Linked DNA regions of Homo sapiens. The protein of the gene in region 6 binds, or shares a complex with, the protein of the main gene of each other region. Each region holds a gene or a part of one and is shown on either strand. Other genes may lie near its edges. A codon is read from its position in the direction of its gene.

Region 1 (3,500 bases), on a different chromosome or scaffold from region 6:
TGATCTTTGCCATGAACTATTAGGTAATTTTATAAGATTCGCAGTTCATATGGTAAATTATTTTCTCCCAAAGAGCCAAATTAAGATTGTCAGCTGGAACCAAATCCTTGCTTTCGTTTTAAAGCATATTAAATCTGTATTATTGTTGGAAAATATATATAGTTATTTTCCAGCTTGTTCCCCAGTGCACATATTTTCAGTTACAGTGATTATTTTGGATAGAGCATATATGTGTGTATATGCTCTATCACATATATATATATAGATGTGTTAATATGCTGTGTTTTATTTTGACTTGAATTAGGTAATGACAGAATTTTTAAATTTTTAAGTGATTTCTTTAATGATACGTTTCAAATATCCAGATTTTTTTTTTTTTAAGACTGATTGGATATTTTTCCTTTTTTCTAAATTTTTTTTTTTTTTTTTTTGAGATGGAGCTTCACAGTTGTTGCCCAGGCTGGAGTGCAATGGTGCGATCTCGGCTCACTGCAACCTCTGCCTTCCAGATTCAAGCGATTCTCCTGCCCCAGCCTCCCAAGTAGCTGGGATTACAGGCATGTGCCACCATGCCTGGCTGATTTTTCTTTTTCTTTTTCTTTTTTTTGAGACAGAGTTTTGCTCTTGTTGCCCAGGCTGGAGTGCAATGGCGCAATCTTGGCTCACCACAACCTCCGCCTCCTGAGTTCAAGTGATTCTCCTGCCTCAGCCTCCCGAGTAGCTGGGATTACAGGCATGTGCCACCACATCTGGCTAATTTTGTATTTTTAGTAGAGATGGGGTGTCTCCATGTTGGTCAGGCTGGTGTCGAACTCCCGACCTCAGGTGATCCACCCGCCTCAGCCTCCCAAAGTACTGGGATTACAGGTGTGAGCCACTGCGCCTGGCCTAATTTTGTATTTTTAGTAGAGGTGGGGTTTCACCATGTTGGTCAGGCTGATCTCAAACACCTGACGTCAGGTGATCCACCCGCCTTGGCCTCCCGAAGTGCTGGGATTACGAGCATGAGCCACCATGCCTGGCCCCAGCCCCTTCTTTCTAAATTGAAGGAGACATAATTTCTAAGGATATGTTAAGAAAACTAGGAGCTAAAATATTAAATCACACCTAGGATCTTTAAGCTTAATTCAAATACATAGAAATATATCCTCAACTGATAGGTACTATGCACTGTAAAGAGAGAAGATGAGTTAGTGTCCAGATCCTTTTTTGGGAGGTGCCGTAAGTATTTCAGCTATTTTACCTGACTTTTTTTTCTTTTATTTGAGAAAGTTCATGATAGTTTTATTTTATTCCTTAAAACATTTAACATAATCTGGGAAATTTTTTTCTCTTCTTTTGTCAAAGCAAAAAGCCAGAGATAACAGAGCTGCTTTACGCATTAATAAAGTACAGATGTCAAATGATTCCATGAAAAGGCAGCAACAGCAAGATAGCATTGATCCCAGCTCTCGTATTGATTCGGAGCTTTTTAAAGATCCTTTAAAGCAAAGAGAATCAGAACATGAACAGGAATGGAAATTTAGACAGGTATGGAATTTTTGGATAATCTACTTTTTGAAGTTGCATTTTTGTTTTGAGAAGGGAGGTCTTTGCATTATTATTTTAGAATATAGTTCTTAGACCATGAAAATTTGATTTAGGATAGACTTGTTTCTCTTTTCAGTAAAATATATTTAAATTGATTTGAGAAATTTATTGAAATATTATAAACAATATACTGCCCTAGGCACAAATGGAACATACCATGATGAGTAATTTCTCTTCTTCAGGAATTCATAATCTAATATGGGAGCAATCTGGTAGCGCTGACATCAAACAAATTAACTTTCTGTTGCTTTTTCCCCCCATGATGGTAGTTTTCTTCCTTAACCTAAATATGATTGCTTTTTCTTTTCTATTTTAATAGCAAATGCGTCAGAAAAGTAAGCAGCAAGCTAAAATTGAAGCCACACAGAAACTTGAACAGGTGAAAAATGAGCAGCAGCAGCAGCAACAACAGCAATTTGGTTCTCAGCATCTTCTGGTGCAGTCTGGTTCAGATACACCAAGTAGTGGGATACAGAGTCCCTTGACACCTCAGCCTGGCAATGGAAATATGTCTCCTGCACAGTCATTCCATAAAGAACTGTTTACAAAACAGCCACCCAGTACCCCTACGTCTACATCTTCAGATGATGTGTTTGTAAAGCCACAAGCTCCACCTCCTCCTCCAGCCCCATCCCGGATTCCCATCCAGGATAGTCTTTCTCAGGCTCAGACTTCTCAGCCACCCTCACCGCAAGTGTTTTCACCTGGGTCCTCTAACTCACGACCACCATCTCCAATGGATCCATATGCAAAAATGGTTGGTACCCCTCGACCACCTCCTGTGGGCCATAGTTTTTCCAGAAGAAATTCTGCTGCACCAGTGGAAAACTGTACACCTTTATCATCGGTATCTAGGCCCCTTCAAATGAATGAGACAACAGCAAATAGGCCATCCCCTGTCAGAGATTTATGTTCTTCTTCCACGACAAATAATGACCCCTATGCAAAACCTCCAGACACACCTAGGCCTGTGATGACAGATCAATTTCCCAAATCCTTGGGCCTATCCCGGTCTCCTGTAGTTTCAGAACAAACTGCAAAAGGCCCTATAGCAGCTGGAACCAGTGATCACTTTACTAAACCATCTCCTAGGGCAGATGTGTTTCAAAGACAAAGGATACCTGACTCATATGCACGACCCTTGTTGACACCTGCACCTCTTGATAGTGGTCCTGGACCTTTTAAGACTCCAATGCAACCTCCTCCATCCTCTCAGGATCCTTATGGATCAGTGTCACAGGCATCAAGGCGATTGTCTGTTGACCCTTATGAAAGGCCTGCTTTGACACCAAGACCTATAGATAATTTTTCTCATAATCAGTCAAATGATCCATATAGTCAGCCTCCCCTTACCCCACATCCAGCAGTGAATGAATCTTTTGCCCATCCTTCAAGGGCTTTTTCCCAGCCTGGAACCATATCAAGGCCAACATCTCAGGACCCATACTCCCAACCCCCAGGAACTCCACGACCTGTTGTAGATTCTTATTCCCAATCTTCAGGAACAGCTAGGTCCAATACAGACCCTTACTCTCAACCTCCTGGAACTCCCCGGCCTACTACTGTTGACCCATATAGTCAGCAGCCCCAAACCCCAAGACCATCTACACAAACTGACTTGTTTGTTACACCTGTAACAAATCAGAGGCATTCTGATCCATATGCTCATCCTCCTGGAACACCAAGACCTGGAATTTCTGTCCCTTACTCTCAGCCACCAGCAACACCAAGGCCAAGGATTTCAGAGGGTTTTACTAGGTCCTCAATGACAAGACCAGTCCTCATGCCAAATCAGGATCCTTTCCTGCAAGCAGCACAAAACCGAGGACCAGCTTTACCTGGCCCGTTGGTAAGGCCACCTGATACATGTTCCCAGACACCTAGGCCCCCTGGACCTGGTCTTTCAGACA
Region 2 (4,098 bases), on a different chromosome or scaffold from region 6:
GGTCCCAACTACTCAAGAGGCTGAGGCGGGAGAATCGCTTGAACCTGGGAGGAAGAGGTTGTGGTGAGCCGAGATCATGCCATTGCACTCCAGCCTAGGCGACAGAGCAAGACTCTGTCTCAAAAAAGGATTTCCTACATATAAAATCATGGCATTTGTAAATAAAGAGAATTTCACTTTTTCCTTTCTGAGTTCCTTTTGTTTTTCTTGCGTTAACTGCACTTTTGAGCAACAAATGGGAGATAACATTCAACACTGCAATTTCAGCATGGTTTTCAAACTCTACATAGGAATGTAGACATAACACTTCTAAAATCTGTAGAAGACATTTCAGGAAGCACTTTAGTCGTTGTACCTAAAATACATGTACCATATAAAAACATTCCAGTGTCAACAGCACTTTAAATTTTCACAGTAATATATGAAAGAACAGACTTTACACTTCTTTTGCACAGAATTATCTTTGCTATGTTTTAAAATACTTAAGAAATAGAAACAAATTTAAGAGAGTTTTCACCTTTAAAATTTATTACATAAGCTATACACACAAAATGAAATCCTAGTTATAAAAGATGCATCTAGAAGAATAATTTATAATAAACCAACAAAAATGAGAATGTGTATCTCCAGGAATATAAATATATTTAAATGTTCTCAGTGACTGGCATTGCTTTATGCATTACATAAGATAGTATGTACTAATTAAGGTATTGAATTCACTGGGTTTTAGAAGGCTTTAAAAAAAATCCAGATAAATCAACAACAAAAATACAGCTCAACTTTGAACTGCATTAAAATCCAGAATCTCTCATTTTAGATGACCATTCCTTATTCCCCTCAAAAGGTTTCCAACAGAAGCTATTTCACAAACTGATTATTAGAATGTCTTCTCCCCACTCTCCCCAAAAGCAAGTATGCATGGAAGTGCATGCTTTTAACCTTAAGAAATGTATTTTTGGTACCATTAATATAAAATTATAATATTTATATTTATAAAATTGTATATAAAAAGTATCAATAGACTATAACCTAAACAGTTTTAGAAAGATATCAACAGCTTGCAAATATAAAAACCTTGTGCTATTAAAAGGTGTTTAACAAGGTAGTTATTAATACATTTGTTGTGTATATAATTACAAAAGTAAACCAAGAAATATTTAAAATCTTTATTAACCCAAATTAGAATTATAAAAATGTTTGTCTCAAAAACAATGACTGTGATACTCAAGTACAGAATTGTGGTGCAGCCAGAAGTGGTTCAAGAGCCCTCCCGCAAATCATGACTTGCACTCTGGCTTTTAAGTGAAGACGAGGGAATCTCAAGGCAGATGGGAGGAGGGCATTTGAAGAAAACAAAGATGACAAAAAAGATGGGAAGGACACAATGGTTAAGTAAGTTTCTTGTCAGATACAATAAACTATTTTTAGGAAGGATAAAATTAAAAGTGCTTAATACAAACAAAATTTAACGCTGCTAATTATTCTTAAGTGCCATAAAACATTAGTTACCAAAATAACTTTATTAAGAGTTGGCCAAACTTCAACTATTATTACTATTACTACAGGGTCTTGTTCTAGCAAAGTTCCAATATTTATCAGTTATCTTACACATGACATTTATCTTAATATGTACATAAATATCAGGAAAGTTTAAATACTTTTATTTTACTATTTTAATCTTTTCCTTAAAGATGCAGGGTTTCATACTACATCAATTAGGCGGACATGACAAAAATGACTTAAATAGGAACTGAATATAAAGAATACTCGATACCATGACATCATCATCTGGAACAACTGAAGTTTTCTACCTCTTGCTCCATTTTCTAGATAAAGGGGAGGAAGAGCAAATAGTAAGTTTCAATATGGAATAAGCTAAAGAAACATTTCATTACTTTTTCAGTAAACAACCTTAAGAATATTAATATTCAGGTATATATTTGATAGTGAAAATAAACATTCAGTTCAGTATTTAAGACTGCCACATAGATTTTACCTGTAGGACTTCATTATTTAAATAACTTTGAAATGAGTCTGGGGTGCATTCATCTTATGTTAAATTCAAATAGTATTAATCAAGGTACTGATGTAGTTAGAGTTTAGTATTTTACACTTTGTAGGTATCAATATTATATATATACTACATAGTATACTTTAGTAGGTATACTAAATACTATATATATACTAATGGTTATCATTTTTATATTTTGTAGTTACCAATAATATGCATATGTAAGTAATATCTTTTTTTAAAATTTAGCACTCTCTAGTGAAATGATCTGTTATTAAAAATAATAATAAGGCCAGGCATGGTGGCTCCTGCCTGTTAATGCCAGCACTTTGGGAGGCTGAGGCGGGAGGACCGCTTGAAGCTACGAATTTGGGACCATCCTAGGCAACATAGCAAAACCTCCATCTCTACAAAAAATTTAAAAATTAGCCCAGTGTGGTGGTGCTTGCCTATAATCTCAGTTACTTGAGAAGCTGAGGCAGGATTGCCTGAGCTCAGGAGTTCCAGGTTATAGTGAGCTATGTTCTTGCCACTGCACACAGAGAAAGATCCTGTCTCAAAAATAAGTATTAATGCTCTAATTAACACTATAATACCTACTATAAAGGAAGATTAAGTACATAAGTCTTTTTTTTTTTTTTTTGTCATACAGAGTCTTACTCTGTCAGCCAGGCTGGAGTGCAGTAGCTTGATCTTGGCTCACTGCAACCTCTGCCTCCCAGGTTCAAGTGATTCTCATGCCTCAGCCACCCGAGTAGCTAGGACTATGGGTGCACACCACCACATCTGGCTAGTTTTTGTTGTTTTAGTAGACATGGGGTTTCACCATGTTGGCCAGGCTAGTCTTGAACTCCTGGGCTCAAGCAATCCACCCGCCTTGGCTTCCCCAAGTGCTGGGATTACAGGCATGAGCCACTGTGCCTGGCTGACAAGTCTTAAAAGAAGCTATTATTCTTCATTAATACATACACACAAAAGGGGTATTCATAGTTTATGTTCCACTATTTATTAAAGACACAAACTATTGGCTGGGTGCAGTGGCTCACGTTTGTAATTCCAGTACTTTGGGAGGCTGAAGTGGCTGGATGGCTTGAGCTCAGGAGCTCAAGATCGGCGTGGGCAACATAGTGAAACCTCATCTCTACAAAAAACACAAAAATTAGCTGGGCATGATGGCAGGTGCCTGTGGTCCCAGCTACTTGGGAGGCTGAGGCAGGAGGATCGCTTGAACCTTGGAGGTGGAGGCTGCAGTGAGTGAGTTGAGATCGCACCACTGCACTCCAGCCTGGGCGACAGAGACCCTGTCTCTAAATAAATAAATAAATAAACAAACAAACTAATTAAGTTATAGATTGGAAAAATACTAAACTCACTTGCATTTAGAAATAATTCATAATCCACATATTAAAAATGATCTTTATGGAATGGGACATCAACTTTGGAAATAGAAAGATGGTCTTTAAGTTCCTACAATCAGTTTCTTACACAGATTAAATAAAGCCTCAACAATCCTACATAAGTGATATATTAATGTGACCACAAGAGCATTTGTAAAAAGTTTCCACTCAAGAGTTTACCTGAATAAGTGATGTTTTATCATGGTCCTTGCGATGCCGATAAATACATTGGCTGATTACTGCATACAAATTTTCCAACTGAAATATGTTGTAGTTTTGACTTTTTTTAACAACAGTCTTCAAAAGATTCTAAAAGAAAATATGAGTGTCAATATGTGTGAGAGAGAAACTTCCTCAGACAAGATACTTAATTTAGAAGGTTTGGGCAATTATTACAAGCCTGACAGAGGGTAGACCAAGCCATCTGATGACACAGGGCAGCCTCTGGCAGTGGCTCTGACATTTAAATGTACTTAAGTCTAGCTATAATCCTGGCCTTGACCTTGAGTAACTCATATTCTAAAAACTAGAGCTGAGGGGATTGCCAATTCTAAGTCTAGCCATAAGCATCTACAAACAAATTAAAAACTAACCTCAATTTAGATTAACAGGAGAAAAGCAAAGTTTTTTTGCAGGGGATTTTATGATAGTATAAGTACATTTTAACTAATTTTATTATGTGAAACTAAA
Region 3 (3,500 bases), on a different chromosome or scaffold from region 6:
GGCAGGTGGATCACCTGAGATCAGGAGTTCAAGACCAGCCTGACCAACATGGTGAAACCCTGTCTGTACTAAAAATACAAAAAATGAGCCAGGCGTGGTGGCGGGTGCCTAGCGTAATCCCAGCTCCTCAGGAGGTGGGGGCAGGAGAGCCACTCGAACCAGGGAGACAGAGGATGCGCTGAGTCGAGATCATGCCATTGCACTCCACCCTGGGCAACAACAATGAAACTCTGCCCCCCGCCCGCAAAAAAAAAAAAAGAAAAAAGAAAAAAAATGTTCCTCCTGCCCCTTGCTGTTAAACCTTCCCTGCCCCAGGCGACCACTAATCTACTTTGTCTCTCTGAATTTGTCTTTTGTGAATCCTTTGTGTAAACGGAACCCTGCAGCGTATGCTGTCTTGGGTCTGGCTTCCTTCTCTAGCCCTTGGTTTCTGTACTCTAGACCTGCCCCATTCCCTTCTGAAACTTGAAAAGGATAGGGGCATTTGATCAAAGTGTCTTGAACAGAATGAATGAGGTTTATGTTGACATTGACCCTTGGAGAAAAATAGTCAACCGAACTGCCTTTACAGTGCACAGGAGGAAGGGGATGGCATTGCCTTGATGAGCCATCATATTCCCTGGTTCTTTAATGAGGCCTCAGGTTTCTTTTGCAGCCTCGGCCCTGCCCTGTGTGTGCACCCCAAGGGAGAAGTGTTGCAGGGCTAATTTGCAGGCTTGCATTTGCTCAGGATAAAGTTCGAGCCTTGCCCCCACCACACCCAGCTTTGTGGGCATTCATTCTCTCTCTCTGGTTACTTCTGTCCTGGCTTTAGTCCTTGCTCCTCTGCTATAACTCCTTAAAGGCAGGGCCGATTTCACTGGCACGTTCATCTGACGTGTGTGCGTGGGTCCTGCAGGTATGTGACAGGGCACATCTGGGCCTGTCCTCCAAGTGAAGGAGATGATTACATCTTCCATTGCCACCCACCTGATCAAAAAATACCCAAGCCAAAACGACTGCAGGAGTGGTACAAAAAGATGCTGGACAAGGCGTTTGCAGAGCGGATCATCCATGACTACAAGGTACCCGGCGCTGAAGGAAGGTGGTGGCTTTTGTCACAACTGAGGGGAGGATATTTGTGTGCCTTTTTCTTGCATTCGCATACTTGTTAATTACCTTCACTTATGAGGATTAGAAAGCAGAAAAATAAAAGCCTAAAGTGAGAACTTAGAAGCATTTTCTTCAGCTGATTGAGGCTTTCCCCTGGCCGTCTGAGAGCAGCACAGTTGGAGCTGTTTCCATCAGTGGGCATTGGGGCCTGTGCATCACTGTTGCACACATAGGGGCTCCAGCACTGTGGTGGGGGGTGCACATGTGTGGGGGTCTGCTGCACTGTGGTGGGGGGGCACACATGCATGGGACTCTGCCACACCATGGTGAGGGGCACGCTTGCGTGGGGGTCTGTCGCACCATGGTGGGGGGCACGCGTGCATGGCCCTCATCTCACTGTTGTGCTTTGCCCACTCAGGATATTTTCAAACAAGCAACTGAAGACAGGCTCACCAGTGCCAAGGAACTGCCCTATTTTGAAGGTGATTTCTGGCCCAATGTGTTAGAAGAGAGCATTAAGGAACTAGAACAAGAAGAAGAGGAGAGGAAAAAGGAAGAGAGCACTGCAGCCAGTGAAACCACTGAGGTACAGACCCTTCTCTGAGCTCCATTGCCCACGTGTCCCGCTGGAGCTGCAGGGTGGCAGGCTGGGAGGCGCGTGTCGACTGTTAGGTCCTTCCTGTGGTGGTGTCTCCGTTCACACATGCACGTCGACACCACCTGCAGCACAGGGCGTTGGTGGGCAGCAGTGTGGGCTCTGCACTCTCTGCACAGTGGATGCTCTGGGGAGCTGGGGGTCCACTTAGACTCGGAGAGGGAAGAGAGGAAGACAGAAAATGGGACATGGGGCAGTCAGGACACAACCCGCTGATGTAAAAAGTGAGTCGAGGAGGCACAGGGTTGCCAGGCCTTATTCCGTGTTTGGTGGCCACTCTGCACATGATGCTCATGCCCTGCTGCCCTCTCTCCTTGGCGCTGCCCCTGAGTGCCAGGCAGTGCAGACTGAGCCAAACAAAACCCCATCCCTGGCCAGGCGCGGTGGCTCACACCTGTAACCCCGCACTTTGGGAGGCCGAGGCAGGCGGATCACAAGGTCAGGAAAGGGAGACCAGCCTGGCTAACACAGTGAAACCCCATCTCTACTAAAAATACAAAAATTTAGCCGGTTGTGGGAGGGGGCACCTGTAATCCCAGCTACGAGGGAGGTTGAGGCAGGAGAATCGCTTGAACCCGGGAGGCGGAGGTTGCAGTGAGCCTAGATTGCGCCGTTGCACTCCAGCCCAGGAGACAGTGCGAGACTCCGTTTCAGAACAAACAAAACCCCATCTCCGCCCCCAAGGGAGTGGCTGTGTCCTGGTAGGATGTGAAACAAAAAGAACCCAGACCCAAGCATGGTGTGCTCTGAGCGTGGCAGAGCTCTGAAGGGGAAGGAGCCTTGGGGAGGTGGCGTGTGGGCCAGACCCGCCCACCACAGGAAGGTGCTGGAAGAGGACCCGCCAGGCGGTGGGAGGAGGCGCGCTGTGTGCGGGTTTGTGCGGCTGTCTGGGGAAGAGATGATGGTGGCGTGGGTGTGGGCTGTAGCTGTAGGTGCAGGGAGAGCGATGACGAACGTTGAAGGCTGCAGCCCCAGAACTTGGGACAGGCGATTGTGACCAGTGAGGAAAAGCGGTGAATGGAGGTGGCTCTTGCGTGGGCTGCTGCCATGGGTGAGGCAGCCGGGAGCCGGCTGGGGACATACTGCCACTCTGGTGCCTGTCCCATATGAGAGCACGTCTGTGAGGTGGGTGCCGGATGGGCTGTAGGCGGAGCGTGGGGCCTGGGCCGCTTCCGCCACACACACTCGTGCTCACTGCACAGGTGGTTGAGAGGCAGCCACCTGCTGGACGGCGCCCCAGAGTGTCATTCGCAGGACAGAGGAGGCGCGGGCAGGGGGTGGCGTGGGTTTACGCCCTAGGTGGCTCCTAAGCAGAGCTCCTGGCCTGTTGTCTTCGGACTTGCTCCCGCTGGAGTGTAGCTGGTCTCACTGGTGTCTGGTGAGTTAATGCTTGAGTTCCATCTCCTAAGGGTGACACGGGAGGTTACCGCGTCCGAGACAGGCTTTGCGCAGCTGAGTTCCACCCCAGGAGGGGGCACCTGCCTGTGGCATGGCAGCAGTGGGGTTGTCCAGAAGACAGGCCTGATAGGGGCTCCTGCTGGGGCAGCCTTCCCTGTGCACCGGGGACATGCATGTGTTAGGAGGCGGGATGCTGAGGTGTCGGCATGTAGACCTGCTGTCCCTTGTGTGTTTGGTTCATGGACAACAATGGGCAGGGACATGCCTTCGTCAGCAACACCCCAGGAGCTCGCTCTGGGGGTCAGCCTTAGTGAGGGCTGGTGCGTGGGGTGGAGCACTGCTTTGCTATTAGCTC
Region 4 (3,500 bases), on a different chromosome or scaffold from region 6:
GGATTTGCTGGGTCAATAGGGTATTTGTATGTTTAACTTTATGGGATACTTGGCCAGACTGACTTCCAAAGTACTTTTATACTCACATCAACAGTGTATTAGAATTTTCGTTATTCCATATCCTCACCAACATTTTATGTTGTCAGTTTTTAAAGTTTTAGGCATTCTACTGGGTTTATAGTAGTATTTCTTTGTTAATAGTACTTCATAGTGGTTGTAAAGATTAAATAGGTTTTAATTGTCTTTTCCCTCATAACTAATGCTATTAAGGATTGTTTTTTTAATGTGGTTATCGACTATCTCCTTTTGGACTCATGTATTCACATCTTTTGCCCATTTTAAAATTAGGTTATTTGTCTTTTTGTTATTAGTTGTAGGTGTTATTTACCTACATATTCTGGATGAGTCCTTTATGCAGATTACATGTTTTGTGCACATTTTTCTCTCAGTTTGTGGTTTGCCTGTTCATATTCTCAACTTTTTTTGTATAACTGGAAGTTTTTAGTTTTAATCATGTCCAGTTTATTAATTTTAAAAATTTCTATTAGTGTTTTCTGGTTCATGCCTAATATCTTTGTCTACCCCAAGGAGATCATGAAGCTCTCCTAATGTTTTCTTCTGGAAGGTTTTTAGTTTTAGCTTATTAAAATTATGTCCATGATCCATCTCATGTTATTTTTCATGTCCAATATGAGGAAAGGGATTAAGGTTTGTTGTTCCATGTGGATATCCACTTGTTTCAGTATAATTTGTGTGAATGCCTTGGTGCGTTTTTAACAAAAAAATATTGAACTTACACGTGTGGATCTACATCTGGACTTTTCTCATTCATTGTCTGTTTTTCTGTCAATATCGTACTGTCTGGATTAGTGTAACTTTCTATTGATTCCTGGTAGTGTGAGTCCCACATCTTTATTTTTTAAAGATTGTTTCGATTATTCTTGACCTTATTTCTGTATACATTTTGGAATCAGGTGGTTAATTTCTATTTAAAAAGTTCTGACTAATCTTAAGATTACATTGAATCTAAAATTGAATGTGGGGAGAATTGCTATCTTAATAACATTGAGCCTTCCAGTATATGAACATGATGTATTTCTGTATTCTAGAAATGTTTCAGGTTTTCAGTCTTGCATGTATTTTGTTAAATTTATCTGAGTAAATCTACATCTTTTGATTTTTGATGCTCTTAAAAATGGTATACTTTTTTATTTATTTATTTTTGTATGTGTGACATGTTCTCACTTTGTCACCGAGGATGGAGTGCAGTAGCGTGATCTCCACTCACTGCAACCTCTGCCTCCGAGCTCAAGTGATCCTCTTACCACAGCTTCCCGAGTAGCTGGGACTCCGCATACACCACCATGCCTGGCTAATTTTTGTATTTTTTGTAGAGACAGGGTTTCGCCTTGTTACCCAGACTGGTCTTGAACTTCTGGGTTCGAGTGATCTGCCCACCTAGGCCTCCCAAAGTGCTATTACAGATGTGAGCCACTGTGCCTGACCTAAAAATGATATACTTTAAACATTTTCTCTTCCAATTGCTTGTTTTATGTGTGTGCATGTGCATATGCATGGACACACAATGGCACAGTTTGTGTAATTGTTTTGTATTCTGCAACCTTGCTAAATTCACTTATTATTGTAGTTTTTTGTATTCTGGGCTTTTTCTGAGAGAGTGGCTCACTCCATTGCCAAGGCTGGAGTAGAGTGGCGTGATTGTGGCTCACTATAGCCTTGACTTCCCAGGCTCAAGCGAACCTCCCACCTCAGCCTCCTGAATAGCTGGGACTATAGGTGCGTGCCACCATGCTTGGCAAAATTTTTTTTTTTTTCTAGGGACAGGGCCTCACTATATTGCCCATGCTGGTCTTGAACTCCTGGGCTCAAGCAATCCTCTTGCCTCAGCTTCCCAAAGTGCTAGGGTTGCAGACATAAGCCACCACACCCAGCTATAGGATTTTTTTTTTTAGATGTAGATTATTTCAGATTTCCTGCACACAAACATTACCTGTTAATGAAGAAAGTCACAGTTTTTCTTTGCCTTATACAGTTGTCCATTGGTATCTTCAGGGATTTGGTTCCACGATCCCCCGTGAATACCAAAATCTGCCGATGATCCGGTCCATTATACAAAATGCCATAGTGTGGCTGGGCATGGTGGCTCACATCTGTAATCTAGCACTTTGGGAGGTTGAGGCAGGCAGATTGCTTGAGCCCAGGAGTTTGAGACCAGCCTGAGCAACATGGCAGAACCCCATCTCTACAAAAAATACAAGAATTAGCCAGGCATGATGGTGTGCATCTGTAGTTGCTACTCAGGAGGCTGAGGTGGGAGGATCTGCCTGAGCCCAAGAGTTCTAGGCTGCAGTGAGCTGTGATTGTGCCACTGCACTCCAGTGTGAGTGACAGAGTGAGACCCTGTCTTGATAGATAGATAGCCATATAGCCGGGCATGGTGGCTCACGCCTGTAATACCAGCACTTTGGGAGGCTGAGGCAAGAGTTCGAGAAGACAAGCCTGGTCAACATGGTGAAATTCCGTCTCTACTAAAAATACAAAAATTAGCTGGGCGTGATGGCACACACCTGTAATCCCAGCTACTTGGGAGGCTGAGGCAGGAGAATTGCTTGAGCCCAGGAGGTGGAGGTTGCAGTGAGCCGAGATTGTGCCACTGCACTCCAGCCTGGGCGACAAAGCAAGACTGTGTCTCGGGGGGGAAAAACAGCCATATAGTACAGTCAGCTCTTTGTATCTGCAGATTCTGTGTTTGAGGATTCAGCCAATCTCATGTTGATCCGTAATTGGTTGAATCAGTGGATGTGGAACCTGCATATGTGGAGAGCCACTTGTGTTTCATTTTCTTGCCTTACTGCACTGGCCAGAACCTCTATTACAATGTCAAATGGAAGTGATAGAGTAGACATCCTTGCCTTATTCCCAATTGAAGAAGGAAAATTTTGAGCCTTTCACCATTCACTATGATGTTAGCTGTAGGTTTTTCATATGTGCCCTTTATCAGGTTGAGGAAGTTTCCTTCTATTCCTAGTTTGGTGAGAGTTTTTATTATGAAAGTGTTACCTTCTAATGCTTTTTCTTTATCAAGATAATCATAAGATTTTTCTCCTTTAATTCTGATAATGTGGTGAATTACATTGATGAGGTTTTAAGTGTTAAATTAGCCTTGCATGCCAGTATATTATCCTTTTTCTGCTTTGCTAGATTTGACTTGGCAATGTTTTGTTAAGACTCTTTGTTCATGACAGGTAATGGTTTCTTTTTTCATACGTCTTTGCTTGATTTTGGTATCAAGGTTTCCTGGCCTCATAAAATGAGTTGGGAACTGTTTCTTCTCTATCTTCTGGAAGAATTTGTATAAGACTGCATTATTCCTTTAAATGTTCAGTAGCATTCACCAGTGAAGTTTTATGTGCCTTGAGTTTTCTTTGTTGGAAGGTTTTTAACTATACATCTAATAAATAGATTTAATACTGTTCTGA
Region 5 (3,500 bases), on a different chromosome or scaffold from region 6:
ATTTTGTAATTTCCATTCTGATAATGCCTTGAACAGAAAACAAGTCTTTCTTCAACAGAAAACAAAATAAGGAATAAAAACATCCTTAAAGGATTGTTGCAAAACAGAATTTGACTAATATCTAAAGATATTAATATCTAAAGATAGATATTAATATCTACATATCTAAATTAATATTGCCTTATTAATAATAATAAATAATTATTATTAAATATTAATATCTAAAGATAGCCAAAATAAAACTGGAAAACTTTAAATCAAATGTAGCTTATATGCATAATATTTTGCTTTTTAAATACCATTTAGAATTTTGTTGGATCTAGTTCTTTCCAAAATAATAACCTATGTAGGAATTTTATTAGGAAACAAGGATTTTTTAGTTTTCTATGATCAACCCTTGGCTACGCTCAAAAGTAATTAAAATTTCTTTTTCCTTTCTTTTCTTTCTTTGTTGTTGTTGTTGTTGTTGTTGTTGTTGAGACAGGGTCTTAGTGTGCCACCTAGGCTACAGTACAGTGGTTATCACAGGTCACTGCTGCCTCGACCTCCTGGGATTAAGGATCCTCCCACCTCAGCCTCCCGAGTAGCTGGGACCACAGGCATGTGCCACCATGCCCAGCTAATTTAACTTTTTTTTAGAGACAGAGTATTGCTATGTTGCCCAGGCTGGTCTCGAACTCCTGGGCTCAAGGGATCCTCCTGCCTCAGCTTCCAAAAGTGTTAGAATTATAGGCAGGGGCCATCATGCTCGGCCTTAAAATTTCTATTTGGTGATTACCTTCCCCCCACTGCCCCTGGAGAAGGGGTCTCACTATGTTGTCCAGGATGGAATGCAGTGGCTATGCACAAGTGCAACCATAATGCACTACAGCTTCAAATTCTGGGGATTAAGCAATCCTCCCGCCTCAGTCTCCTGAGTAGCTGGAACTACAGGCACTCACCTGCAGGCACTCACCTACAGGCACTCAGCACGGCCGCTGGCTTTCATTACTCTAATTAGAGACAGAAATATACTAGCTTTTATACAGAATTGAAATATTTATGAATTAATATATTCTGCCTACTTACTTGAAATAACTAAGAATTTTTTAAAATTGAGTTTGTGGGCCAGGCGTGGTGGCTCACGCCTGTAATCCCAGCACTTTGGGAGGCCGAGGCAGGCAGATCACGAGGTCAGGAGATCGAGACCCCGTCTCTACTAAAAATACAAAAAAATTAGCTGGGTATGGTGGTGGGCGCCTGTAGCCCAGCTACTCGGGAGGCTGAGGCAGGAGAATGCCATGCACCCGGGAGGCGGAGCTTACAGTGAGCCGCGATTGCGCCACTGCACTCCAGCCTGGGCGACAGAGCAAGCCTCCATCTCAAAATAAATAAATAACTAAATAAATAAAATTGAGTTTGTGAACTCACTTCTTGAAAATGTAAAGAACCAGAATAGAGAGGTACTTACCATTTTCTGAAGAGAGAGTGGCTCAGAAGAAACACTGCCAGAGCTCTGTAGACACAACTTTTTAAAGACTGCCTCTGCAACAAACATTTGAAGCCAGGAGGAGGAAAAGGAGCAAATGAAAATCTCTAATTCCTGTGAAGAAAAGTCTGGAGAACATAAGGTAAGTTAATATAGTTATTGCTGTATCCTATACAATTTTTTCCATAGGCTATTTCCTTAGTGAAGTTTATTCTGTCAAATGAGAGCTCTTACACCTATAAGATTCATCCACATGATTTTAATCCACAAAAAATAGGTCATATCACTATTCCTTGACTTTTAAGAGAAAATATTTAATGGCACATGTTCTCACACTTGAAAAAAACAATCATTAGGTTTGATTATTTCAGATACAAGTCTTGAAATTACATATATACAGATTAGGTAATATATGAATATATAGAGGGGATTTTATTTATCACTATACTTTCCAACTACCATTAAAGATCTCTTCCCACAATAGGGATGCTTCTTTGGAAAACCAGTAATTAGTTTTTAAATGAACATACAAGTATTTAATTTGCAATGATCAGTACTGAGTTGACAGGAAGAAAGTAGACTGCTTCCTATGACAACACCCATGAATCTTATCACTGCAGAAAAGGAGGAAAGGCACAAGGTAAAGAAGAAAAACATGAAACAAGAAGAAACGCACAAGGTAAAGAAGAAAAACAAGAAAGGCACAAGGTAAAGAAGAAAAACATGAAACGAGCATGTATAAAGAAAAACATGAAACAGGAGCATGTATAAAGAAGAAAAACATGAAACGAGCATGTATAACGACTTCCTCAGAAGTTTGCACCCACTCTACTATGGGGGATGGTGGATAATTTTTTTTTTTTTTTTGAGACGGAGTCTCGCTCTGTTGCCAGGCTGGAGTGCAGTGGTGCGATCTCGGCTCACTGCAACCTCCGCCTCCCAGGTTCAAGCGATTCTCCTGCCTCAGCCTCCCAAGTAGCTGGGACTACAGGTGCGTGCCAGATGGTGGATAATTTTAAATGATGAAACAAAAAACAAGAAAACACCAAGAGCCTCAAATATCTTCTACAAAACCTCAAGAACTTCAATAAGAAGAAAATGCATAAATATACCCATGAATTCAAAGTGATAAAGGAGTGACTATTTCCCATGTGATCTATTTAATATTATAAACTATTAATATTCTCTATGTAACATAATGAAAATGCAACAAAATGATAATGAAAGAATAAATAAGACCAACCAAGAGGATATCAAAAAAGCTAAAATTACAAACAATATAAAAAAGTTGTGATATTATACAATAAGGGAGATTAACTATAAATACTGGAAGAATAAAGAATAAGTCAATACAGTTAGCAAAGTAAACATAATAAACAGCAGAAGAGAAGAATTAAAATTATAAGCATTAAGTTAAAATATAGTTTTAAAATCAGACAATGATAAACTTAATAGCAGTATAAGGCATAAAAGCTGGCCTCTCTATTCAGGGGTGGAATTCTTTCAGCGTGAAGAGAATGCAGACACCCAGTCAATGTCCTGCTCAGATGCCTTCATAAAAGGCTGGGGCTCTAGTGTCTTGTAGTCCTTGACCCTTGACTCTGATTTTCAATAGTGGATGGGAGAAGTAAAAGAGGATTTGCTCTCAGGTAACATTTGGTAATTTCTGGTTGCCACATTGGGGAAAGGGATGCTATTGGCATCTAGTGGGCAAAGGCCCAGGACGCTGCAATACACAGGACAGCCCCAACAACAAATAATTATCCAGCCCAAAACATAATCAGTATACAGGCTGAGAAACTTGCCTTGACTAAAGAGATCTGATGCCCTTGCCTTGTGGCAGCTTGTCATAAGGAGTGTTTAAACCTTTGGGCAAATGGCTTCAGGTCAGATGTTAACCAGATACAACTAACCCCAAACAGATATATTATCACTGAATTTAGATAATCCCTTCCAATATGGCCTCTACAGAGATACTTTTTTTTTTTTTTTTTTTTTTTTTTGAGACAGAGTCTCGCTCTATTGCCCAGGC
Region 6 (2,390 bases):
TTCGGGAGATTTTGAGTTTTGGGCTTAAAATGACTGAAGAACCACCAGGTGGATCTACGTGTCTCGAGTCCAGAAGTCTGAATACAGATTTACGATTTATGAGCACACAGAAGGTGGATCCAAGGGAGAGATTAAACAGGGCACAGAAGAGTTTTTAAAAATAATATTTTTCGGGAAAAAAACCCCAACAAAACACGATTCTTTCAGCAGAAACCAGAAGATTTTCTCATAGACTCTCCTACAGAGAGCCCTGATAAAGTAATAAACATGCTAACAGTAAGAACCCCAACCAATTTCATAGGGCAGTTTGCGGTAACTACTCCCAGTATGGAGCAGACAGTCCTCTTGCAAAACCCGATTTAGCAAACTTTGCTAGCTCCATGTGGGGCCTCCAAAGGACACAGCTGGGCACTAAATCCTGGCTGAAAACAAAGGCCGATTTAGAGGATCCGTAGAAACGGATGCACAGAATATCCCTCAGTCTTCTCTATGTAGCAGGCCCTCCATATACGCGGGTTCCCCAAGACCGAAAATATTAAACAAATGAATTTCTTTTTTAAAAAAAAGTACAACAAAAGATAGTAAAAATAAAAACAGTATAACAATTACTTACATAGCATTTACACTGGATTAGGTGTTACGAAGTAATTTAGAGACTATTTAAAGTACACGGGAGGATGTGCATAGTTATGTGCAAATACTACGCCACTTTCTATGAGAGACTTGAGCAACCTGGATTTTGGTATCGGCGGGGGCCCTGGACCAATCCCCTCTCAGTTCTACCGAGGGAGAACTGTTTTGTTTCTTCCAGCACGGCTTTGACCGACAGTGTGTTGGGATTCGCTGACGTCCATGAGAAAGCTTGGCAGCATGCTGAGACCAATTTTCCCAGGGCCAGAATTCTCCTGTGTGAGCTAAAATACAGTGGCTCGGTCCAACAAAACAGAGCCTGGAGCCAGGAATTATGGCGAACCTGCTCCCTCCCGTCCTCCCTTGGCGCACAGATCCCTGGCGCCGCCGCTCTTGAGGTCGCCTCTCGCGTGTCGACCTCATCGTCGGAACGGCGCTTCCTGAAGCTTTATATAAGCACGGCTCTGAATCCGCTCGTCGGGATTAAATCCTGCGCTGGCGCGCTCCTGCCAGTCTCTGGCCTCCATTTGCTCTTCCTGAGGCTCCCTCCAGAGACCTTTCCCTTAGCCTCAGTGCAATGCCTTCCGGGCGTCCTCAGACCAGACACAGGCCAAAGCCACTACAGAATCCGGAAGCCCCGGTTGGGATCTGAATTCTCCCGGGGACTGTGGCGTAGCGGTTAAAAAAAAAAAAGAGTGAGAGGGACCTGAGCAGAGTGGAGGAGGAGGGAGAGGAAAACAGAAAAGAAATGACGAAATGTCGAGAGGGCGGGGACAATTGAGAACGCTTCCCGCCGGCGCGCTTTCGGTTTTCAATCTGGTCCGATACTCTTGTATATCAGGGGAAGACGGTGCTCGCCTTGACAGAAGCTGTCTATCGGGCTCCAGCGGTCATGTCCGGCAGAGGAAAGGGCGGAAAAGGCTTAGGCAAAGGGGGCGCTAAGCGCCACCGCAAGGTCTTGAGAGACAACATTCAGGGCATCACCAAGCCTGCCATTCGGCGTCTAGCTCGGCGTGGCGGCGTTAAGCGGATCTCTGGCCTCATTTACGAGGAGACCCGCGGTGTGCTGAAGGTGTTCCTGGAGAATGTGATTCGGGACGCAGTCACCTACACCGAGCACGCCAAGCGCAAGACCGTCACAGCCATGGATGTGGTGTACGCGCTCAAGCGCCAGGGGCGCACCCTGTACGGCTTCGGAGGCTAGGCCGCCGCTCCAGCTTTGCACGTTTCGATCCCAAAGGCCCTTTTTAGGGCCGACCACTTGCTCATCTGAGGAGTTGGACACTTGACTGCGTAAAGTGCAACAGTAACGATGTTGGAAGGTAACTTTGGCAGTGGGGCGACAATCGGATCTGAAGTTAACGGAAAGCTACCGCGGCCCATAGCGCTCACAGCCGTAAAGACTTAAGTCGTTGACCGAAAGCGGCTTTTTCACTTACCTGGGCTTTTTTTTTTTTTTTTTTTTTTTTTAAAGCCTTTATCGGTATGAAAGGTTGAATGCTCTAGGTTTGAGCACTGCTTTCTCGGCTTGCTCTTCTGGTGCAGTATAGGCACACCTAGAGGGCCACGTCAGTCTTTGCGATCACCAAATCTGGTTCTGAGAAATAGGCACTGGCAATTTACACATGCCTTGCTGTGTAATCTCACTATATTTGCTCAGGCAAAGTGGGAGAAGCAGCCTTAGGTTTTCATTCTAGAGATGCCGGCTTTCCCACCTGATCGGCTTAGAGTTCACGATTGACTGTTTTGGGCTTCATTTC
Region 7 (3,500 bases), on a different chromosome or scaffold from region 6:
AAGTAAGAATATTTATGTTGCTTAGTAGGAAAAACATCAACAATCCAGAGTTCCAGTTCAAGCTCCCCCAATGGTCAGCCAGTTATCTGTCCACAAGCAACACTGTTCCTCCAGATCCAAGTTTCCCAATCTATAAAATAAAGGTATTGAATAACTAAAGTCCCCACAAAATTCTGATTTTAAATAATCTTATATTCATATTTTACAATTTCAAAAGCATCTTCATAGATACTGCCTCATTTGATTCTCACAATGGACTTGTGACTTTATGGGGTAGGCAGAGAAAATATTCTTCTGATTCCCAACTAAGAAACTCAGGTTAGAAAGGTCAAGTACCCTGGCCAACTTAAAGGTGAGATAAAAGAAGGAACCTAGATCTCCTGAATTTTGTCTTTCAATACGTGCCAAATTACCTATGGGGTGTGTGTGTGCTAAACTGTAAAAAGCTTAGGGTTTTAGATATGTAATGCAAACACCAAGTAAGGAGGATCACTAAGGTCTGAGCAGTTACCAAAAAGGGGTCCAGAAATTTAAAATTCTCTAGGCGCTCTCTCTTCTGTCCAGAACTGTAATTCAACTAGAAACCCTGAATACCAGGAACATGCTGGAGAACTGGAAAGCAAAAGTAAAAACCATCCCCTAAACTCCCAATGACCAAAACTGATGGCGCAAAGTCCATGTACTAAGTAAGCTCCATATACATGTGAATCCCTCAAAACTTATTTACTCTTGCTTTTCTAAAATACATTTTTTATGCACAAAATGCACAAAACACCAAGTATAATTTAAAAATTATAAAGTAAACATCTATAAAACCGCCACTGTGGTCACCATTGCCAGTGTCCTAGAAGTCCCCATATGACTCACCCGGATTTCAATTCCCTCCCTCTCCCCTAGAGGTAAGCACTATCCTCACTTTGATGATAACACTGTATTTCATTACTACTTCGGTATGTATCTTAGGTATATATAAGGCCACTGAGGTTCACAAACTCAGGAGCAATATTCACAAAGAATACAATGGGAATAGTGCCCCCTCCAGGCAGGCAATGCAGCAGCCCTGTATCCCTACACAAAATAGCTTAGTTTTGCCTATTTCTGAATCTTATACAAATGAAATTATAACATGTATTTTTTTTGGCAGCTACTTGCTTCTTTAGCTTACCATTATATATTTGTGAGAATCATCTGCATAGTTCTGTGTGGCTGAAGTCTATTCATTTTTATTGCTGTAGGAATATACTACAATTTACTTAGCTAACTGATTTTGATAGACACCTGAGTTGTTCTTAGTTTTTGATTCTTATGAACAATGCTGCTACCAATATTTATGCCATGTATTCTGGTGCTCACATGGCCAACAACTTCTCTAGGGATATACCTAGAAGGTATACTGGGACCTTGGGCATACACAGCTTTGACTTTACCAGACCATGTCCAGGAAGTTTCCAAAATGGCTGAACCGACTGATAGGCCCACCAGCTGTGCATGAGAATTCTTTCTGCTCTATGTCTTTGCTAACTCTTGGTTTTGTTGGACATTTAAATTTGTACCAATCTCTTAAGCATATGGTTTTAATATGTACTTCTCTCATTATTAATAAAGTTCAGCAGTTTTTTGGAATTTGGGACATTTAGATTTCTTCTTTCCTCATAATGTTGGTTTGTCCTTTTTTTTTTGTTTTTCTTTTTTTTGAGACGGAGTCTGTTGCCTAGGTTGGAGTGCAGTGGTATATCTTGGCTCGCTGCAACCTCTGCTTCTTGGGTTCAAGCAATTCTCCTGCCTCAGCCTCCCAAGCAGCTGGGATTACAGGCGTACACCACCACGCCTGACTAATTTTTGTATTTTTAGTAGAAACGGGGTTTCCCCATGTTGGCCAGGCTGGTCTGAAACTCCTGACCTCAAGTGATCCACCTGGCTTGGCCTCCCAAAACCTTGGCCCCCCAAAGTGCTGGGATTACAGGTGTGAGCCACCGCACCTTGCCTGTTTGTCTTTTTTCCTATTGATCTATCTGGATTTTTTTCTTTCTTGATTTGTAGTAATTCTTTATATATTCTGGATATGTAATAGTCCTTGGTTGGTTCTTTTCTCATTTTCTTCACTCTCTCTGTAGTGAGTTTGATGAACAGAGGTTCTTACTCTTATTTTTAAAGTAGTTGAATTTATAAATCTTTTCATTTATGGTTAGCATTTTCTATCTGTTTAGGAAAGCTATGAAGATATTCTTCTATCTTCTAAAGGTATTATAGTTTTACCTTTCACAGTTAGGACTTTCATCCTCCTGGAATTGAGTTTATGTAGAGTGAGGTAATAATGGTCCAATTTCACAGTTTCCCATGTATATTCAATTGTCCTGGCACCATTTACTGAAAAGTCATCTCTTCCTCAATGATCTGCAATGTCACCTTTGTCATATAACAAGTGTCCACATACATGGGGTTCATGTTCTGCACTCTCTACTGTTCTGTTGGTCTATCTGCCTCTCCTTATGTCTGTACCTCACTATATTAATTAGTGAAGTATTATATACTAAGTTTTTTGGTTTTTTTTAGATGAAGTCTTGCTTTGTCACCCAGGCTGGAATGCAGTGGTGCAATCTCAGCTCACTACAACCTCCGCCTCCCAGGTTCAAGCAATTCTCCTTCCTCAGCCTCCTGAGTAGCTGTGATTACAAGCGCATGCCACCACGCCCAGCTAATTTGTTTGTACTTTTAGCAGAGATGGAATTTCACCATGTTGGTCAGGCTGGTCTCAGACTCCTGACCTCAAGCAATCCACCCGCCCTGGCCTCCCAAAGTGCTGGGATTACAGGCGCAAGCCACCATGCCCAGCCTATACTAAGTTTTGATATCAAGTTATCATATATAGGGCAAATAATCCTGTTCTTCAAAGGTACAGATATTCTTAATACTTTGTACCTCCATATAAACTTTCAGTATCAGCTTGTGAAGTTTCACTAAAAACAAAACCTCTTGGGATTTTGATGGGAGCTGCATTCAATTTATTAATCAATATTAGAAGACTTGCTAACAATATCGAGTCTTGCAAGGAAGCAGCTTAATGTACTCAAATTTTATTTGTCTCATGGAGATTAGCCAACTAATAAAATTTTGGTGTTTAAAAGGGTTATCTGTCTCACTGTTTTAGCTCACTGTCTAAAGATTACTCTAGTAGTTGGGGTTTATTATATCCTGTCTAAGAGGTATTTCTGCTTGACTCCAGGAAGCAACCATTTCTTCAAATCAGCACATTTAAAAACGTATCAAAATAAGTTCATGTTTTTAAACTTACCGCAAGAATAAATAAGATCACCTCTAAAGTTAAAATAAAGCTTATGTTACTTACGTGGCCCTGTGTTAACTGAGTAAGTTGAGCCATGGTGAGCTTCACTTGTCCTTGTTGGGGGCGAGGGGGTTGTGAGGCTGAAGACTGTATATTTGAAGTGGACGTTGCTGAAGTTAAGCTTTTCTGCCCAGGTGTTGAGGAAACCGTGTTAGGG

Evidence for each region.
Region 1: the proteins of H4C15 (region 6) and KMT2C are in contact, whole or in part, in a crystal structure (PDB 6MLC), measured with the Homo sapiens proteins. Residues at the interface, in NP_001029249.1 of Homo sapiens: Gly15 (codon at 1,565), Ala16 (codon at 1,568), Lys17 (codon at 1,571), Arg18 (codon at 1,574), His19 (codon at 1,577), Arg20 (codon at 1,580); in NP_733751.2 of Homo sapiens: Leu1084, Tyr1094, Arg1095, Glu1096, Glu1097, Asp1098, Leu1099, Ile1100, Leu1101, Gln1102, Trp1109, Glu1120, Val1123, Ala1127.
Region 2: the proteins of H4C15 (region 6) and ATAD2 are in contact, whole or in part, in a crystal structure (PDB 4QUU), measured with the Homo sapiens proteins. Residues at the interface, in NP_001029249.1 of Homo sapiens: Arg4 (codon at 1,532), Gly5 (codon at 1,535), Lys6 (codon at 1,538), Gly7 (codon at 1,541), Gly8 (codon at 1,544); in NP_054828.2 of Homo sapiens: Val1008, Phe1009, Val1013, Asp1020, Tyr1021, Ala1060, Glu1062, Tyr1063, Asn1064, Pro1065, Asp1066, Asp1068, Gly1070, Asp1071, Ile1074.
Region 3: the proteins of H4C15 (region 6) and CREBBP are in contact, whole or in part, in an NMR structure (PDB 2RNY), measured with the Homo sapiens proteins. Residues at the interface, in NP_001029249.1 of Homo sapiens: His19 (codon at 1,577), Arg20 (codon at 1,580), Lys21 (codon at 1,583), Val22 (codon at 1,586), Leu23 (codon at 1,589); in NP_004371.2 of Homo sapiens: Pro1110, Phe1111, Val1115, Leu1119, Leu1120, Gly1121, Ile1122, Asn1163, Ala1164, Tyr1167, Asn1168, Ser1172, Arg1173, Val1174, Phe1177.
Region 4: the proteins of H4C15 (region 6) and HAT1 are in contact, whole or in part, in a crystal structure (PDB 6VO5), measured with the Homo sapiens proteins. Residues at the interface, in NP_001029249.1 of Homo sapiens: Lys6 (codon at 1,538), Gly7 (codon at 1,541), Lys9 (codon at 1,547), Gly10 (codon at 1,550), Leu11 (codon at 1,553), Gly12 (codon at 1,556), Gly14 (codon at 1,562), Gly15 (codon at 1,565), Ala16 (codon at 1,568), Lys17 (codon at 1,571), Arg18 (codon at 1,574), His19 (codon at 1,577), Arg20 (codon at 1,580); in NP_003633.2 of Homo sapiens: Asn30, Glu54, Tyr55, His57, Gln58, Asp62, Glu64, Glu187, Thr188, Ala189, Ser190, Ile192, Asp196, Trp199, Tyr225, Arg237, Ser239, Gln240, Glu276.
Region 5: the proteins of H4C15 (region 6) and SLF1 are in contact, whole or in part, in a crystal structure (PDB 8PEF), measured with the Homo sapiens proteins. Residues at the interface, in NP_001029249.1 of Homo sapiens: Ala16 (codon at 1,568), Lys17 (codon at 1,571), Arg18 (codon at 1,574), His19 (codon at 1,577), Arg20 (codon at 1,580), Lys21 (codon at 1,583), Val22 (codon at 1,586), Leu23 (codon at 1,589), Arg24 (codon at 1,592), Asp25 (codon at 1,595); in NP_115666.2 of Homo sapiens: Asn804, Leu805, Lys806, Glu808, Asp838, Asn839, Ala840, Trp842, His846, Glu847, Asn850, Tyr851, Val873, Asp874, Asp881, Asn885.
Region 7: the proteins of H4C15 (region 6) and BPTF are in contact, whole or in part, in a crystal structure (PDB 3QZS), measured with the Homo sapiens proteins. Residues at the interface, in NP_001029249.1 of Homo sapiens: Gly15 (codon at 1,565), Ala16 (codon at 1,568), Lys17 (codon at 1,571), Arg18 (codon at 1,574), His19 (codon at 1,577), Arg20 (codon at 1,580); in XP_047291553.1 of Homo sapiens: Pro2951, Phe2952, Val2956, Asp2960, Ala2961, Asp2963, Tyr2964, Val2967, Cys3003, Arg3004, Tyr3005, Tyr3006, Asn3007, Pro3008, Pro3012, Phe3013, Tyr3014.

What each region holds. Positions count from the first base shown.
Region 1 is NC_000007.14:152,181,004-152,184,503, reverse strand, and holds part of KMT2C (histone-lysine N-methyltransferase 2C), read left to right. Parts: intron 1-1,347; coding exon 1,348-1,530; intron 1,531-1,909; coding exon 1,910-3,500. UniProt on the Homo sapiens protein: Histone methyltransferase that catalyzes methyl group transfer from S-adenosyl-L-methionine to the epsilon-amino group of 'Lys-4' of histone H3 (H3K4).
Region 2 is NC_000008.11:123,319,350-123,323,447, forward strand, and holds the end of ATAD2 (ATPase family AAA domain-containing protein 2), read right to left. Parts: intron 3,718-4,098; coding exon 3,589-3,717; intron 1,827-3,588; coding exon 1,785-1,826; 3' UTR 501-1,784; downstream 1-500. UniProt on the Homo sapiens protein: May be a transcriptional coactivator of the nuclear receptor ESR1 required to induce the expression of a subset of estradiol target genes, such as CCND1, MYC and E2F1.
Region 3 is NC_000016.10:3,734,214-3,737,713, reverse strand, and holds part of CREBBP (CREB-binding protein), read left to right. Parts: intron 1-898; coding exon 899-1,064; intron 1,065-1,510; coding exon 1,511-1,678; intron 1,679-3,500. UniProt on the Homo sapiens protein: Acetylates histones, giving a specific tag for transcriptional activation. Mediates acetylation of histone H3 at 'Lys-18' and 'Lys-27' (H3K18ac and H3K27ac, respectively).
Region 4 is NC_000002.12:171,928,961-171,932,460, forward strand, and holds part of HAT1 (histone acetyltransferase type B catalytic subunit), read left to right. Parts: intron 1-3,500. UniProt on the Homo sapiens protein: Histone acetyltransferase that plays a role in different biological processes including cell cycle progression, glucose metabolism, histone production or DNA damage repair. Coordinates histone production and acetylation via H4 promoter binding.
Region 5 is NC_000005.10:94,684,669-94,688,168, reverse strand, and holds part of SLF1 (SMC5-SMC6 complex localization factor protein 1), read right to left. Parts: intron 1,597-3,500; coding exon 1,451-1,596; intron 1-1,450. UniProt on the Homo sapiens protein: Plays a role in the DNA damage response (DDR) pathway by regulating postreplication repair of UV-damaged DNA and genomic stability maintenance.
Region 6 is NC_000001.11:149,860,264-149,862,653, reverse strand, and holds H4C15 (histone H4), read left to right. Parts: upstream 1-1,494; 5' UTR 1,495-1,522; coding exon 1,523-1,834; 3' UTR 1,835-1,890; downstream 1,891-2,390. UniProt on the Homo sapiens protein: Core component of nucleosome. Nucleosomes wrap and compact DNA into chromatin, limiting DNA accessibility to the cellular machineries which require DNA as a template.
Region 7 is NC_000017.11:67,940,503-67,944,002, reverse strand, and holds part of BPTF (nucleosome-remodeling factor subunit BPTF), read right to left. Parts: coding exon 3,347-3,500; intron 1-3,346. UniProt on the Homo sapiens protein: Regulatory subunit of the ATP-dependent NURF-1 and NURF-5 ISWI chromatin remodeling complexes, which form ordered nucleosome arrays on chromatin and facilitate access to DNA during DNA-templated processes such as DNA replication, transcription, and repair.